2 linked regions of the Homo sapiens genome follow. The protein of the gene in region 1 interacts with the protein of each later gene in a pairwise test. Each region holds a gene or a part of one and is shown on either strand. Other genes may lie near its edges.

Region 1 (7,765 bases):
TACTAGGGCCAGGGCTCGTGGACATGGAGTGGGGGTGGGGGTCAGACCCGGAAAACAGGCCCTCTTGCTGTTTGCTTATCCTCCCAAGGCCTGGGAAGCTGAGGATTTCAGAACCAGGGATCTGAGATCTGGATGGAGTCCCGGTAGCCTCTTGCCTGAAGCTCTGAGCTGAGGGCCCTTAGCACGTGGCTGTCCCTGGTTGTCTGGTCTAGGGTGTGTGAGCAGCCTCCAGAAGGTCCTCAAACTCCCTAAAACTGCCCCCCTGATTTTGAGTGTGAGCATTTTTCTGGGGAAAGGGCCCCAGCTTTAATTTGATTTGTAGAGGGTGTGGCCTGGGGGCCCTAGGGCTTGCTTAGTGTCCTGCGGCAGGTCAGTGGCAGGTCAGCAGCTGCATGGGCCTGCCTCCTGGCCATTGTTCCACACAGGAAGTGGGGGATGAGAGCCAGTGTGTTTCATGGGGTTGGGGCACTTGGCTGGGGTGTGGGTCTGGGGGCAAGATCTTGGGCCCAGGGTCTACCTGTATGGGCCAGGCTCAGCCCCTTGAAGACCCCTAGTCATGGGGGTGGGAGTAGGTCTTGGGAATGGCCTCCGTCTGCTGCCCTGGATGGTGGGTGAGGGCCAGAGCACGAGTGTGTGCCTGGTGCTTGTTTAGGAATAATCCTGGGTGAACTTGTCCAGTCACACCCTTCTCCACTTAGCTTATTAGCTTACTTGTACCCCAGATACTCCCTGGAGGGTGGGTAGGGCTTGTGGGGCCACACCCACTCTGCCGATGGGGAGACAGAGATCCAGAGAGGGTCGAGGCCCCGGGCCAGCATGGCAGAGCTGGTCAGGTGGGTTTGGAGGGCTGAGAGCTGCGTGTCCCCTTCCTTCCCACACCCAGGGTGGGCCCCTAGCCAGACCCTGAGGTGGCCCTGCCCTGTGATCCCCAGGAGGCGAGCCGGCCGGGGGCCCCGGGCTCCGAGCGCATCCTGCTGGACATCCTAGAGCATGACTGGCGGGAGGCGCAGGACAGCAGGCAGGAGCTGTGCCAGAAGCTGCATGCCGTGCAGGGGGAGCTGCAGTGGGCCGAGGAGCTGCGCGACCAGGTGGGGCCCTGCCCGTGCCCTGCCCCTTGTGCGGGAGGGTGTCAGGCAGGGCCTGTGTGCTCACGCCTTCCCTGAGCATCTGCTTGACGCAGGCGCCGCGCTGAGAACTGCATTCATTTGTTCTCAGATGTTGACGGAGGCACCCTTCTAGGCGCTTGAGATGCCGCAGTGAGCAAAACAAAGGTGCCTTTTCCTTGAGGGGGAACTCCAGCAGGGGAGACTGGCAGTATGTGAGATACACAGTCCCACGTCAGCTATTTCATGTAGTCAAAGGCGATGAGCACCGTGGGAGATGCAGAGCTGGGGAAGGGGCCGGTTGCAGTTTGAGTGGGGAGGCCAAGGGTGGCCGGATGGGTGAAATGATGATCATTCTTCTCGTTTTACAGATTAGGCAGTTGAGGGCCTGTGAGGTAAAGTCAGTGGCTCAGACCACTCCACTGGGCAGGAGGGGACTTGTTATTGGGTCTCAGACTGTTGGTGAGCGTCTCTCACTGGCCCTCCTGGGCACCTGCTGGTTAGCTTTCTCATGGTCCCCAGCCCTGTGGTCTGACCCCGCCCCGTGCCACCCTCAGTACCTGCAGGAGATGGAAGACCTGCGGCTCAAGCACCGCACGCTGCAGAAGGACTGTGACCTGTACAAGCACCGCATGGCCACTGTCCTGGCCCAACTGGAGGAGATTGAGAAGGAGCGAGACCAGGTGAGCCCAGCCTGCGTGTACGAGGCCCTGGGCCAGTTGCTGCTTCCCATATGGGAGGAGACAAGGAGCAATGGAGGGGACTAGAATGGTAGAAAGAGACGTTAGCCGCTCCCTGTTGGGTTAGGACGGGGCACAAAGGCTGGGGGAACCAGACAGGAGACCTGGAGCCCTTGAGATACCAGCCTTACACCCTGGACCCACTGGCCTCATCTGAGCTCCTGTGGCAGTTACAGAAGCTGGTCCTGGTGTCTTCATTTTTGAATCCCTTGTTCTGTCCATCTCAAAGACAAGGCCAGCACAGAGGGAGTGCTTACAAATAGAAGCCGATGAAGAAATTCTCAAAAGTTTTGGCTTTCAGTCCCTGGGCACTATGACCCTTGTCTCCTGCCAAGGTTGTGGGGTGGGCTGAGGACCTCCGGCCAGTGCCACCAGGCCCCCGAGCCTCCTTGTGTGAGGTTCCATCTGCAGCGGGGAAGGGCAGGAGGTTTTTGTCCTTAACCAGGTGTGAATCCCACTAGAGGAGTTGAAGTCTGTATATTATTGTTGTTATTACTTTTTGAGACTGAATCTAGCTCTGTTGCCCAGGTTGGAGTGCAGTGGTGCAATCTCAGCTCACTGAGGCCTCCCAGATTCAAGTGATTCTCCTGCCTCAGCCTCCCAAGTAGCTGGTATTACAGGCATGCCACCATTCCTGGCTAATTTTTGTATCTTTAGTAGAGACAGGGTTTCACTATATTGACCAGGCTGGTCTTGAACTCCTGGGCTCAACTGATCCACCTGCCTCAGCCTCCCAAAGTGCTGGGATCAAAGGCATGAGCTCCCATGCCCAGCCGAAGTCTGCATATTAGAAATGCCCTCAGAATCCCCTGGCAAGCTTGAAAGTGCAAATTTGGGGCTTCATTCTCTGGACGTTCTGATTCAGGTGGTCTGGGGTGGGCCCCAGGAATCTGCATTTTATGGGGCTGCCCCCGGCTCTCTCTGAGGCATGGGTGACAGGTCTGGACCATGGGCCCAGCTCTGGAGCCCCTGGTCTTCACTGTGGATGCAGTGGGCTGGGTTTGACTCCTGGCTTCTCCACTGACTGGGATGCTGGGAGTGAAGCCCCTGGCACACAGCAGGTCTCGTGGAAAAGTTTTCAGTTCTTGGTGAAATGGTGAGAGCCTGGATTCTGCAGATGGACTGCCCGATTTGAATCCCAGCTCTGTCGCTCCTGGCTTGGTTTCCCCAGTCTGCAGAATGAGAATAATGATATTAATAGTATCTAACTTAGCCAGTTAGTGTGAAGATATTTAAATGAGCTGATAATTTAGCTCAGGGCCCGGCACACAGTGCTCAGTAAGTGATAGCTGCCATTCTCCTTACTGTCCCCATTCTCCAAGTCATAGGCCAGGAAAGCTGGGCCAAGGTGGCTCCTTCAGCTGCTGCCTCCCCTCCCCCAACCCTAGGCCATCCAGAGCCGTGACCGGATCCAGTTGCAGTACTCACAGAGCCTCATCGAGAAGGACCAGTACCGCAAGCAGGTGCGGGGCCTGGAGGCGGAGCGGGATGAGCTGCTGACAACGCTCACCAGCCTGGAGGGCACCAAGGCTCTGCTGGAGGTTCAGCTGCAGCGGGCCCAGGGTGGCACCTGCCTCAAGGTGAGCGGGTCAAGATTGTGGAGGTCCTGGCAGGAAGGCTGGGGTCCTGGCAGGAGCTCTTGGCCAGGGCTGGGAACGTGCCGGCCCTGGTGGGAGACCTCAGCCAGGGGAGGAAGCTTGGGGGAAGTGGGAAGAGTCCTCAGTTAGGGGCGGGAACTTGAACCCAGGCTGGGCTGGGTGTGGGCTGGTGAGCAGGCGGAGGGGCATGTTGGTCTCTGAGTTTCTGGGGTTGCTTCTGGGACACTAAGAATAGTTTGGAGCTGGTCTTTGCATTTAACTGGGGAAGGCTGGCTGCCTGAGTGCCTGTGTGCATGTTAGAATGCAAAACCTGGGCCTCAGAGACCAGCTAGTCAGGACTAACATGGGCCTAAGCATCCCTCAGAGACCAGCTGGTCTAATCCTCTCATCGCACAGGGCCCAGAGAGGGTGAGGGGCTTGCCCAAGGCCACACAGCCAGCTAGCACTGGAGCTGGAGTCCCAGACCCACTGTAAATTGGATCGTGGTCCTCAGGCTGCTGCCGGGAGCTCTGCTTTTTCCTTTTTTTTTTTTTTTTGAGACAGAATCTTGCTGTATCACCCAGGCTGGATCCCAGGTTCAAGTTATTCTCGTGCCTTAGCCTCCCTAGTAGCTGGGACTACAGGTGCCTGCCACCATACCCAGCTAAGTTTTTTTTTGTATTTTCAGTAGGGATGGGGGTTTCACCATGTTGGCCAGGCTGGTTTCAAACTCCTGACCTCAAGGGATCCTCCTGCCTCAGCCTCCCAAAGTGCTGGGATTAGAGGTGCGAACGCCCAGCCTGCGTTTTCTTATTTTGAGTTGCCTGACAGTGAGCTCCGCAGGCCTGGTGTTTGAAGCACTGGGGCCTGGAGGAATATAGGAAAAGTCAGCATTAATCCAAGACTTTTTTTTTTTTTTAACCCCCAGTGGCTTTTTTGCTGTTTGGTAAAGACAGAGTCCCTTTTCATGGCCAAGAGGCCCTGCGGGTGGGGTTCCTCTTGTCCTCTCGCCTGGTTCTGTGGGTTCCAGTCTTTCAACTGGAATGCATCACAGTCCTGCCTCAGGGCCTTTGCACATGCTGTTGATCTGCCTGGACCATCCCAGCTTGACCTACTTAGCGCCTCTATACCCTTGAGTTCTCAGTTCAAACCACAGTTTCTTTGGAGAGTACTTGGACTCCCAGGCTGGGTGGGGTCTTTGTGTGTTTTCCATGCCCTGGGCACCTTCCTTCTGCTATTGTCTCAGCTTGGGGCTATTTTGTTCACATGTCTGCTGGTTTACAGTTTATCTCCCATTCTAGGCTGTGAGCTCCCTGAGGACAGGGATCTGTCCCTGTGCTGGCACATGGCAGGTGCTCAGTAAAGGACTGTGGTTGACGTGGGCCTAGCACTGCTCACCTCCTTCCTCTCCTCTCCCTCTTCCAGGCCTGTGCCTCCTCCCATTCCCTGTGCTCCAACCTCAGCAGCACTTGGAGCCTGAGCGAGTTCCCCTCCCCTCTGGGAGGCCCAGAAGCAACTGGGGAGGCAGCTGTCATGGGGGGACCTGAGCCTCACAACTCGGTAAGACAACTGCCCCATCCCAAATAAGGGGGGACACTGCTATAGCATTATTACTAATGTGGAGAGTGCTTTCTGAAGGATCCATTTCACAGGTGAGGACACTGAGGCGCAGGGAGGCCAAGTACTTTACTGAAGCTCACCCAGAACCATTTCCTTGCCAGGCATAGGTGCCAGGAGGCGTGGGGAGCCACCCGCACACTATAATCTTGCAGAGCCCGCTCTTCTGCTCTGGGCCCTACTTCTCATTTGTGGAATGGGCACAAACCAGGTGTGCTGAGGACTGGGATGGTGCTGGGCAGTGGGGGTGACCCAGGCCCTGTCATGGCATTGCAGGAGGAAGCCACAGACAGTGAAAAGGAGATCAATCGGCTCTCCATCCTGCCCTTCCCCCCCAGTGCCGGCTCCATCCTCCGCCGGCAGCGTGAGGAAGACCCCGCACCCCCTAAGAGGTGAGATGGCTGGGGATAGCAGTAGACACCCAGGGAGGTGGGGCTGCCGTTTCCCGAACAGCCACCTCCCAGAATCTGCAATGCCAAAGTCAGGTCCAGGCAGTCACTTCCCTTTATTGCCCTCAGATGGCTGGAGCTCTGGAAACCCAGGTCCTGTGAGTCACAGGGGCGACCAAGGTCAGGCTTAAGATAAGGCCGATGGGCAGAGCGAACTCAGTCCTAGCCAAGCATCCTGGCAGGAGGGTCACTGGGGGTCAAGCCTTGAAGATCCTATACCCAAGGAGAAGCTTGATGGTTCAGGACTAGGGGGCGTGGAGAATGTTTCAAGGTATCAGGGACCTCCGGCAAGAAAGCCAGGCCCCAGGTTTGGGCATCAGCAGCAAATAGGGACCAGAAAAACCAAGGCGCACCCTCTGGTGGCAAGACCAAGGGCGGGAGATAGCCTGCCTCCTGGGGCGCGATCCTTGTCACTGCTTTTCCCCTGTAAGCAGCCCTTGATTTATTCCTTTACTGGTGAGAGGCTGGGCCCTGGGAGGCTGTGGTCAGTATGGCCTTGATCTGCGTAAATCTGTCCCAAGGAGGTGTCTGATGAGGAGGTCATGGTTTAATTTAGGAGGCGTACCTGGGAGTCACAAACCACAAAGGTGGCAAGTGAGGGTGAGGTGAGGGGTGAGAGATCAGGGGTGGCTTCCAGGAGGAGGTGGCATTGAAAGAGCTGGCTTTGAAGGGCATGCCAGGGCATTGTAGGTGGAACAACATTGGACAGAGGCCAGGACATTAACTTCTTACCCTGGGAGTTTAGGGGAGCCAGGTGGCATGGGTGCCCTGTACCTGGGACCCTGCCTTGAGTCTAGCCTGCATTTGCTTGGGGGCTGTGAGACATTTATCTGGTGTGGGGGCAGGAGGAGGGAGCGGGGCAGAGTGCCCACTGTGCCTCACCTCCTGCCCCCTCCCTGCCCTCTCTCTGCCCAGATCCTTCAGCAGCATGTCAGACATCACAGGTAACAGCCCTTGAGTTCCGTGGGGAGGGCTCCTCTGGTCGGGGGAGGTGGCTTTGCAGCCCACCTGAAGCCTGCACCACCTGCGCTACCTTTGGCCTGCATCCCCTTCCCTGAAGCCCCGCCGTGGCCCCTGCCAGGCAGGAAGGTTGTGCTTGGGAGGACCCTGGGGACTTTGGTTCCAGCCTCTCACCCCGAGCCCAGTCCTGGGCCTCACTCCTGTTCCCGGCTGTGATGTACGAGGCTCTTCAGTTCTGGGCCACCTTTCACCCTCTTCTGGGAAACTGCGGGGTCAGCCTGGTGGGCCCTGACCTATCTCTGAGCCCAGTGGGTCTGATGTGCTCCTGGGGCCTCAAACCTGCCAAGGCCTCTCTGGGCTGGAGGGGGGTCAGTCCCTGTCATGGACCCTGGCCATCCCTGTTTCCCAGTGCCAGATCCCTGAACCTCATTCTTTTTCCCCAGGGAGTGTGACACTTAAGCCCTGGTCCCCTGGCCTCTCTTCGTCCTCATCCTCTGACAGCGTGTGGCCTTTGGGAAAGCCGGAAGGCCTCCTGGCTCGGGGCTGTGGCCTGGACTTCCTCAACAGGTACTGTAGCTGCCTGCAGTGGGTGGAGCTGGGGTGATTGCTTGAGAGGGGAACAGGAGTGAGGTGGGAGGAGCAATTGCCTCGCCCCTGTTTTATGCAACTATTGGAAGATTAAGATCTGTAGACACTGGCAGCCCTTGGATTCCAATCCTGCTGCCGCTCTTGATCGTCCCTGTGACTTGGGCTGGTCCCTTCACTTCTCTGGGCCTCCATTTCCTCAGTAGCTAAAGGGAGATGATGACCCTTTTTGCATGGAGGTCTTTTGAGGGCTCTGCTCGCAGAAGCAAAGCACCCAGCTCTGCCAGGCATGTAGCAGGTGCTTAGTAATAGTTGTCACTTACAAGCTGTCCTCGTCCCAATGTCCTGCCTGTCAGTCCCTTGGCTCTGAGTCCCTGGGACTGAGCCACCCAGCAAAGTTTCATGCTGTGGGTGGGCTTGGGTCACCTCAGGAGCCCCTGTGACCGGGCCAGCCACAGGTCCATAACAGGAGTCACAAAGCCCATTAGTGCAGAGTGCACTGTAGGCGACGTGCTGTTAGTGTGGCCGGTGCGTGGCCGCTGTTCACACCTGCCAGTGTATCTAAGGGAGGGGTGGGGCAGAGCGGGGGCTGCACGGCCATTGTGGTCTTGGAACTCAGCTGTGAGGAGAGGGCAGGTAGGGAGAGCATCCGGTGACTGTGGAGGAGGAGCGAGGGGGAAGGGCGAAAGTCAAGGCTTCCTGAGTCAGGCTGGGAAAGTGTGGACTTTGGCTTG
Region 2 (7,765 bases), on another chromosome or scaffold:
AGTCCTGAAAAATATGTGGCCTGTGCTGCATGAAGCTGATTCTTGCTTTAGACGGATGTAAATTGACTTTCGAACCACTGGGAATATGAAGAAAAGGAGGGGAAACAGAAGTGGGTGGCAGGAAAAGGGCTGGAGGGAGAAGCCTCCCTCTCCCACCTCTGGACAATGCCCACACAGGTCTAGGGAAGCTCTGGTGTCTGACCCCTCACCCCTTCCAAGAGTTGCCAACACAGGAAAGAAGTCAGCTTCACAGGGGATTCCTTCAAGTGGGGCCACACTGCAGAGGTATTAAAGCAGGAACAGTCCCTGGAAACAGGGAACCCCACTTCAGGAATATAGATCAGCAGAGTATCATTTGAACCCGATTAGGTACCCAGTAGCAGAGAGAAAAAACCTCCATTTCAAACAGAAGGGCTGTAACGATATCTGAATGTGGTAATTTCCCTCTTCTTCCCCCTCAGCCTTCTTCATGACCGGATGACACTTGGCCAGTACATCACTCGGATTAAACCCAGTCATGGCCAATGCTCTCTCCTCATTTTAGAAGTAGAGAGAGGAAACACTCTTGTGGGGTGGGGACAGCCTCGGGGAGCCGGAGCATTTCTGAGTAATGCCCGTCAGCGCCTTGGGTTTTACAAATCTCCAGCTCACACGTTTTCTCGGCTGATGAAATACAAACCCAACCAAATTAGTCTAACAGATATTTTAACAAAGATGCTCCATCCCTGTGCTACATGGCACTTAGCAATAGGTGAAAGGCACTTGAAGTGACTGTGCTCGCAGTTATTCCACAGCCCCAGCAAGCATTTCTGAGGGCCTCTGAGGGGCTAGCTTTGGAATCCCTCTCACCGTCTCTAGGAGGCCTGCCCTCAAACTAAACATATGGCTCAGCCCAAGTGTCAAGAGGCAAGGAGAGGAGAGGAGGTGGCGGTGGGTGGGGGGGAAGCTGTGCTAGAAGCTTCTCTGACTCTTTTCTATGTCCTGCTCATTGCCTTGTAAGGAGAAGAAGGCTAAACTTGCCTTCTCCTCTCTAGAACAAAGGCTCTCCACATTACTTGCATCCTTTAACAGCCTCCTTCTCCAAAAGGGCCTTCCACCCTCAGACCTTTCCCTAGTGCCTGGCTCTACCCCTGGGCATGGATGCCACAGTGAGACAAATAGGGCAGGCTCCTTAGGGACCTCCAGCCTGGCATGATGTAAGTGGGGCGTGCAGAGAGGGATAGAGTGGCAGATGGGACCTGGGGTTGGCCACGGACCTACTCTGAGCCCCCGTAGCCCCACTGATGAAACAGAGTAGAAGGCTCCCTGGGGACCCTTTCCCATCAGGCATTTGCACAACCCTCTGGTTCCTCTCTAGTCCCACTGCCCACCTTGCATTTGAAAGGCTTCACGTCAGAGTGGACGATCATGTGTGCCTTGAGGGTCTGCTTCTGCACGAAGCTCTTGTAGCAGAGGTGACACTGGTAGGCGCGGATGTTGGTGTGGATCAGCACGTGTCGCTTCATGTTGGCCAGCAGGGTGAACTCCCGCCCACAAATCCCACACTTATGCTCCTTCACACCCTGCAGGGAGGCAAGATTCAGAAAAGTGGTGATTGACAGGTAACATGCTTTCATCAGGATCATAGGCTTCATTTTCCTCTCTGCCACATAAATCCACAAAGAGCTTGGTGATAGATGTTGAGTTTCAAATGGTGTAGCTTCAGCCTTGTTAAATTACTATTTTCTTGAAAAGTGTTGATTATATAACCTTTTTTTTCCTTCTGAAAACCATAAACTAGCCAGACTATTAGAGGAAAAGAAAGCTCTTGCTTTTGTTGTTCCAGCTGCTGCTGGGGTTAAGTCTCCAGTGATAGTTCTTGAGGATTAACAGGCTTTTAGTAAGAGCACTATGGGCTGATATGCAATATGAGTCCATAATCCAGCTTTCATGATAATGAAAAAAAAATCTTCCAAAATGATATTATCATTTCCCTTATGGAAACCAATGTTCTCTTGGGTTCTCATTAATGGACTTGAAAATCCCAGAACAACTTATATCCACACTGCAGTAAATTACAACTTAAATTACAACTTGATAATCACCCTCTCAAGTTGGTCCCCTGGGTTCCCACAGGCCACACTGACCTCCACAATGACATGGTTATGGAGCCTTCCCTAAGCCAGCTCCTTCTTATAAAGAAATTTGGCAAGAGGTAGCTTTCTGAATTAAGGAACAGGACAGGAGGCTTTCTTGTTTCCTTGCTGTGCATGAAGGTGTGTTTGAACCAAGGCCCTTAATTGAGAGCATTTCCAGGGACTCACAGCTTGAGCCGGGCATTCACTAATCCTGACTATCCATTGCTTCCCCACAAAGGCCTTTGCAAGAGGTCTTGACCCTGAATGACTTTTGGGAAGAAAAATTTAGAGAACCAGGGCACTAAACTGAAGGTTATCATAGGATTAGAACAAGTTACTTAGTTAACAACTGTACCTGATGAAATCCATATTGCCTGGTATTCATAGTGGCTGAAGGAGGGAAGGAGGGATTCCAAGCTCATCTCTGACTCTCTCTGTCTATGTTTCCATTTCTTTACTTTGAGGCATGGTAAGAAAGAACCACTCTGCAGTTCTGGTGGGCCCATGGTACTAAATGGTGGATTCAGGTCTCTGCCCAGCTGTTTACTGGCTGTAAAACCTTAGATGAGTCGTGTGGCCTTTTTTAGTGAAGGCTTCTCATCACAAGATGAAGTGGTGGGTCATGAGAACCCTGGGGTTCTTTCTAACTCAAGCACTGTCTAGTCCAGATGATGGTACATGAGTATGCATTTATGTTAATAAGGAGACCTAGAAATCAACCTCCTTTAGAAATTAAATTTTGATTCTGCCTATGGAGATGAATCTTTAAAATGTAGTGCATATTCAAACACTGAGTTTAAGATTATAAAATTAATGAAAAACATTTTCTTAATGGATTTTAAATTTTATTTTAGCATCTTTCTTTTTTTTTTTTTTTTTTTTTTGAGACGGAATCTCACTCTGTTGCCCAGGCTGGAGTGCAGTGGCGTGGTCTCGGCTCACTGCAAGCTCCGCCTCCTGGGTTCACGCCATTCTCCTGCCTCAGCCTTCCGAGTAGCTGGAACTACAGGTACCCGCCACCATGCCCGGCTAATTTTTTGTATTTTTAGTAGAGACGGGGTTTCACCGTGTTAGCCAGGATGGTCTCGATCTCCTGACCTTGTGATCCGCCCGTCTCGGCCTCCCAAAGTGCTGGGATTACAGGCGTGAGCCACCGCGCCCGGCCAGCATCTTTCTTCTCTCAAGATTTTCTCTGGGCTTGGATCTGATCCATTTGTCCTGAAACCAAGGAGACGTTTCTGCTTATCACTGTTTTCAGAATTCTTTAAAGAGAATTCTGTGTCCAAAGTAAGATTCACCTGTGGGCTGGCCTAGAATGCAAATGAGCAGGAGCCTGGACACAACTTTAAGGCAACAAAGGAAGCTGTTGTCTCTCTGATAGGATCAGTGGAATCACAGAGTCGGAGCCTGTCAGGTGGTCAGGGGTGCGAACAGGGAAGCAGGTGGAAAAGAGGAAGTGTTCACTGTAGAGTGGCCAAGGCACAGGTGCCTGTGTCAGAGATTCCTGAGTGACCTCCCATGCCTCAGTGTCTTCAACTGCAGATCGGGAGTAGCTCTTAGAGTTGTTGAGAAGTAAATGAGGATTAAATGAAGAGTGAAACACCTGTCATATAGCAAGTGTTCAACAAATACTACCTCTCACTGTTTGCTGACACCTCTCATTAAAGTGTATTTTGTTTTAATTAAAATTCAAATGAAACTTATTTCAGACACCAGGCTGTTTCTCCCATTTTGACTTCATTTTCTACCATCTTACAGGATCTTCATATGCTCTAAAATGCACTTTTGATTCCTTTCCCACATATAAAGGAGCCCCTGAAGTTAGCGAATGGTCCCCTTTACGGCTGAATCCCAGTCTGGGTCCTTTGTTGATGGTTCCTGCACTTGGCAGGCGACTCCCCTCTGGATAGTATCTACAGGTACCTTTTGTAGGGCAGGAGCTGTTTGTGCAGAGCCCACAAGGCAGCCACACATTTCATCTCTGTGGCAGAGCCAGAAAATACCCTGTGTTTTGTCCTAACCTAAGAAGTGAAACGTATTATAGCACAGCAGAAACATTATCTTGGCTGGGCAAAGTCCTCTCCTGACCTTTCAGAATTAAAGAATGCTTTAGAAACTCTGGCTTGCTAGAAGTCTTTCCTGCCAAGAAAACCACTTGAGGTTAAGGGTGTGAGAGTGGGAGTCAGTGGGGGCAAAACTCCCTCTCGGAGGCTCAGAGCAGGTTCCATACTTTAGCTGGGGTAAGATTTCAGGAACACCACTAGGGCCTTGTTTTAGTTCAGCCTGAATGACTCCAGGGCTATGGTTGCAAACTGGGCTGAACTCAGACTCTTGGGCCTGTATTTCCCCTTGAAGACCTGAGCACAGAGAAGATCAAACAAAACCAAACAGAGAAGGATGCTTTCTCATGCCTCCTACAATGTAAACCACAGGGCACTTCACCCAGCTAGGCACGGGTCCAACGCAGGGAGGTATAGGCCCTGCCGGCCTCAGCCAAGCTCTGCTTCCCTTGGAGAACTTGCATATGAAGCAGGTCTCACAGTTGAGGGAGAAAACAATCCAAAAAGTTTTCCACTGCTTCAACAGTACAAGACGAAGAGAATTATCCAGAAGGTGCTCCCTGGCACATCCCAGGCACAGAGCTGATCTAGGGTCTGATGACTTACTCATGCTAGTGCCTTGGATGAAGTTTCTAGAAACCGAATCTGCAAGATTCTTGGAGGCTAGGGAGCATCCTTCCTCATCTCCTCTGCAAATGTCTGCATTATTTATTTCTAGGCCTACCTTAGAGTCTAGAAGGCTGCTGGGGCAAAGGGCTTGGTCGAGAATCGTTCTCTCTTATTTAAACGTGAGGAAGGACCTCAGGGCTCGGCCAAGGGACCGCTTGTCCGGGGTTGCCCACCTCCTCGGGGTAAGGTGCAGAGCGGCACAGGCGTCCTGCTCCCCAGTGCTCTGCTCAGGGCCCCGCTCCTCTTCCCAAGGCCCCGTCCGCCCCACCAGAGGCCCCGCAGTACCTTGTGGGTGAGGGAGTGCTGCTTGAGGTGGTGCGGCTGCACAAACTCCATGCCACACTCTGAGCAGATGTAGGGCCGGATGTCCTTGTGCTTCATCATGTGGTTCTGCAGCTGGCTCGGGTACTGGAAGGTCTTGTCGCACTCGGAGCAGTTGTACTGGATGGGGCCCCGGTGCGTGGTGAGGTGTCTCTTCAGCTGGGCCAAGGTGGGGAAGTCGAGGCCGCACTCCACACAGATGTTCTCGCGCCCACTGGCGTGCTTGGCTTCGTGGGCCTTGAGCTCGCTGGGGTAGGCAAAGCCGCGGCCGCACACGCGGCAGTTGTGCGGCTTCACCTCGCTGTGCTGCATCATGTGGCGCTTCAGGTGGCTGGTCTGGGTGAAGGCCTTGTGGCACACCTGGCACTTGTGGGGCCGCGTGCCCTGGTGGGTCAGCATGTGGGTATGCAGGTGGCTGAGCTGCTTGAAGAGCTTCCCGCAGTGCGTGCACGCGTGCGGCTTGATCCCACTGTGGCCCAGGATGTGGGTGACCAGGTTGTACTTGGAGGTGTAGGACTTCTCGCAGGTGGGGCACTGCCAGCGCTTCTGCGAGCCGCCCACGTCCACGTAGTAGCTGTCATCGATCTGCACGTTCACGTCCACCCTCTCCACCTTCTGCTTGGTCTCCTCGCTCTCCTGGGGCTCGGCTTTCCGGGGCAGCAGAGGTTCCGGGGGCTGCTTGGGCAGGAAGGTGTGCCGGCTGAAGGGGAAGGGCGAGGACGAGGGCACGAAGAAGGGGAACATGAGGCCCGGGTGGACTTTGGGGTAGTAGGGGTAGGGCGTGGGCAGGAATGGAGTGGGCGTTGGCTGGGGCCACACGGCGCTGGGCTTAATGGGTTCCTGCTTGACGGGCTTGCCCCCAAAGTGTTCCAGGCTGCGGTAGAATTGGAAGCCCACGTTGCACAGGTCGATCATCTGAGAGTCATACTTGGGGCGCGGGGGCTGCGGGAACAGCAAAGGGAGGTTGGGAAGGCCGTGGTTTTTGTTCTCCTCTGAGTGGAGGGCGAGGGTGACTTCTTCTGCAGGGTGGTTATAGGGCATCTTTGTGGGCATGCTCTTCCGTTTCCTAGACCCTGCTCCTTCGAAGACCCCGGGGAACCCATCTAGGTCTCCTGGGGGAGGTTCATACCGAAACTGGGAAAATGGCCCTCGGAGAGCTTCCGGGAAGGGGTGTCTTTGGGGAGCCTTTCCCCGAGAAGCCACTGGCTGCAGGCAGTGGGGAAAGGAGGGGGTCTTCTTCACAGCCAAGTCGAAATGCACATCCTCGTCTTTGATCATCTTCATTTCCTTCTGCATCCTTGGCAATTTTCCTTTAAAGAGAAAGAAACTTGTGTGTTTTGGTTTGGTTTTGTTTAAAATTCTCTTTTTCCTTAAGGATTATGGCTATTTATCAGTACTAATTTATGAAGAGTAGTACTTGCTTAATATGGACCCTCATTTATCCTAGGGCTGTTCAAAATATCGCTTTTCTTTCTCCTTGCAAACCCAGTTATCAATATGGATAGCACTGGCCTCTTGGGGTGACCCTAGGGCTGAATCAAATTGGGCTCCAGTGTAAATCCAGCCACAAAACCACAAGGGGTGATGGTAGCAAGGGAAGTGGACTAGTTTGGGAAGAAACCTGAGAACTCATCTGGCCATTGTCCCCATTTAAGATCAGGGTACCAAAGTCCAGATAAATGAAATGACATTCTCAAGTTACATAGGTACTCACTGAAGGAGTGAGCACTAGACCCATTCTGCTGCAGCTTTTCAATCTGAGTTGTAATTACATCTACTAATGGTGATTGGAAAGTGACTTTTAGGGTCTTTTCTTTGTGTAAGGAAACCAATTTTCACTGCTACTCCCTTGCTTGGGCCTTTGCTGCTGGAAAATGAGGATATTCAAAGCCTCATAGGAGAAGGGATGTTAATGCTTAACTCAGATCTAATCGTTTCTGAGTATCCACTCTGAGTAAGGTGTGCTACTAAGGCATAGGGAGTGAATGACATAAACATGATTTTAAAAAGCATATTGAGTAGCTCAATGTTATAAAGTCATCCTGGCAATGTACACATTCCACTCTTAAACCTGAAGCAAGCTGGAATGAAATATTCCTTTATTATGTGAAATAAAGCCGCACATGGGTCTCTCCTTTCAGACAGGTGTCAAAGTAAGGGGCAGGCTTGGTGACTCCTGTGGTGCCTGACATGTCCCCTGCTGACACAGCCAGTTACTGTGTCCTGAGACATAGGCATGTCTGAAAGAGCTGGTGGTGGGACTAGAGTCTGAACAAGGGGCAGTGTTTTTCACGTCTCCTTGCCAGTTTTCTTTCTTTCTTTCTTTCTTTCTTTCTTTCTTTCTTTCTTTTTTTTTTTTTTTGGAGATGGAGTCTGGCTCTGTTGCCCAGGCTGAAGTGCAGTCCAGTGGCACAATCTTAGCTTACTGCAATATCCGCCTCCTGGGTTCAAGTGACCCTTGTGCCTCAGCCTCCTGAGTAGCTGAGATTACAGGTGTGCGCCACCACGCCCTGTTAATCTTTGTGTTTTTAGTAGAGACGGGGTTTCACCATGTTGGCCAGGCTGGTCTTGAACTCCCGATCTCAAGTGATCCACCCG

The links. The genes of interacting proteins can lie anywhere in the genome.
Region 2: the proteins of CARD10 (region 1) and ZNF366 interact in binary tests that used the Homo sapiens proteins (3 or more experiments, as listed by UniProt).

The regions. Positions count from the first base shown.
Region 1 is NC_000022.11:37,501,850-37,509,614, reverse strand, and holds part of CARD10 (caspase recruitment domain-containing protein 10), read left to right. Parts: intron 1-932; coding exon 933-1,088; intron 1,089-1,660; coding exon 1,661-1,786; intron 1,787-3,231; coding exon 3,232-3,423; intron 3,424-4,845; coding exon 4,846-4,980; intron 4,981-5,313; coding exon 5,314-5,429; intron 5,430-6,401; coding exon 6,402-6,430; intron 6,431-6,889; coding exon 6,890-7,013; intron 7,014-7,765. UniProt on the Homo sapiens protein: Scaffold protein that plays an important role in mediating the activation of NF-kappa-B via BCL10 or EGFR.
Region 2 is NC_000005.10:72,455,034-72,462,798, forward strand, and holds part of ZNF366 (zinc finger protein 366), read right to left. Parts: intron 6,478-7,765; 5' UTR 6,464-6,477; coding exon 5,132-6,463; intron 1,563-5,131; coding exon 1,371-1,562; intron 1-1,370. UniProt on the Homo sapiens protein: Has transcriptional repression activity. Acts as a corepressor of ESR1; the function seems to involve CTBP1 and histone deacetylases.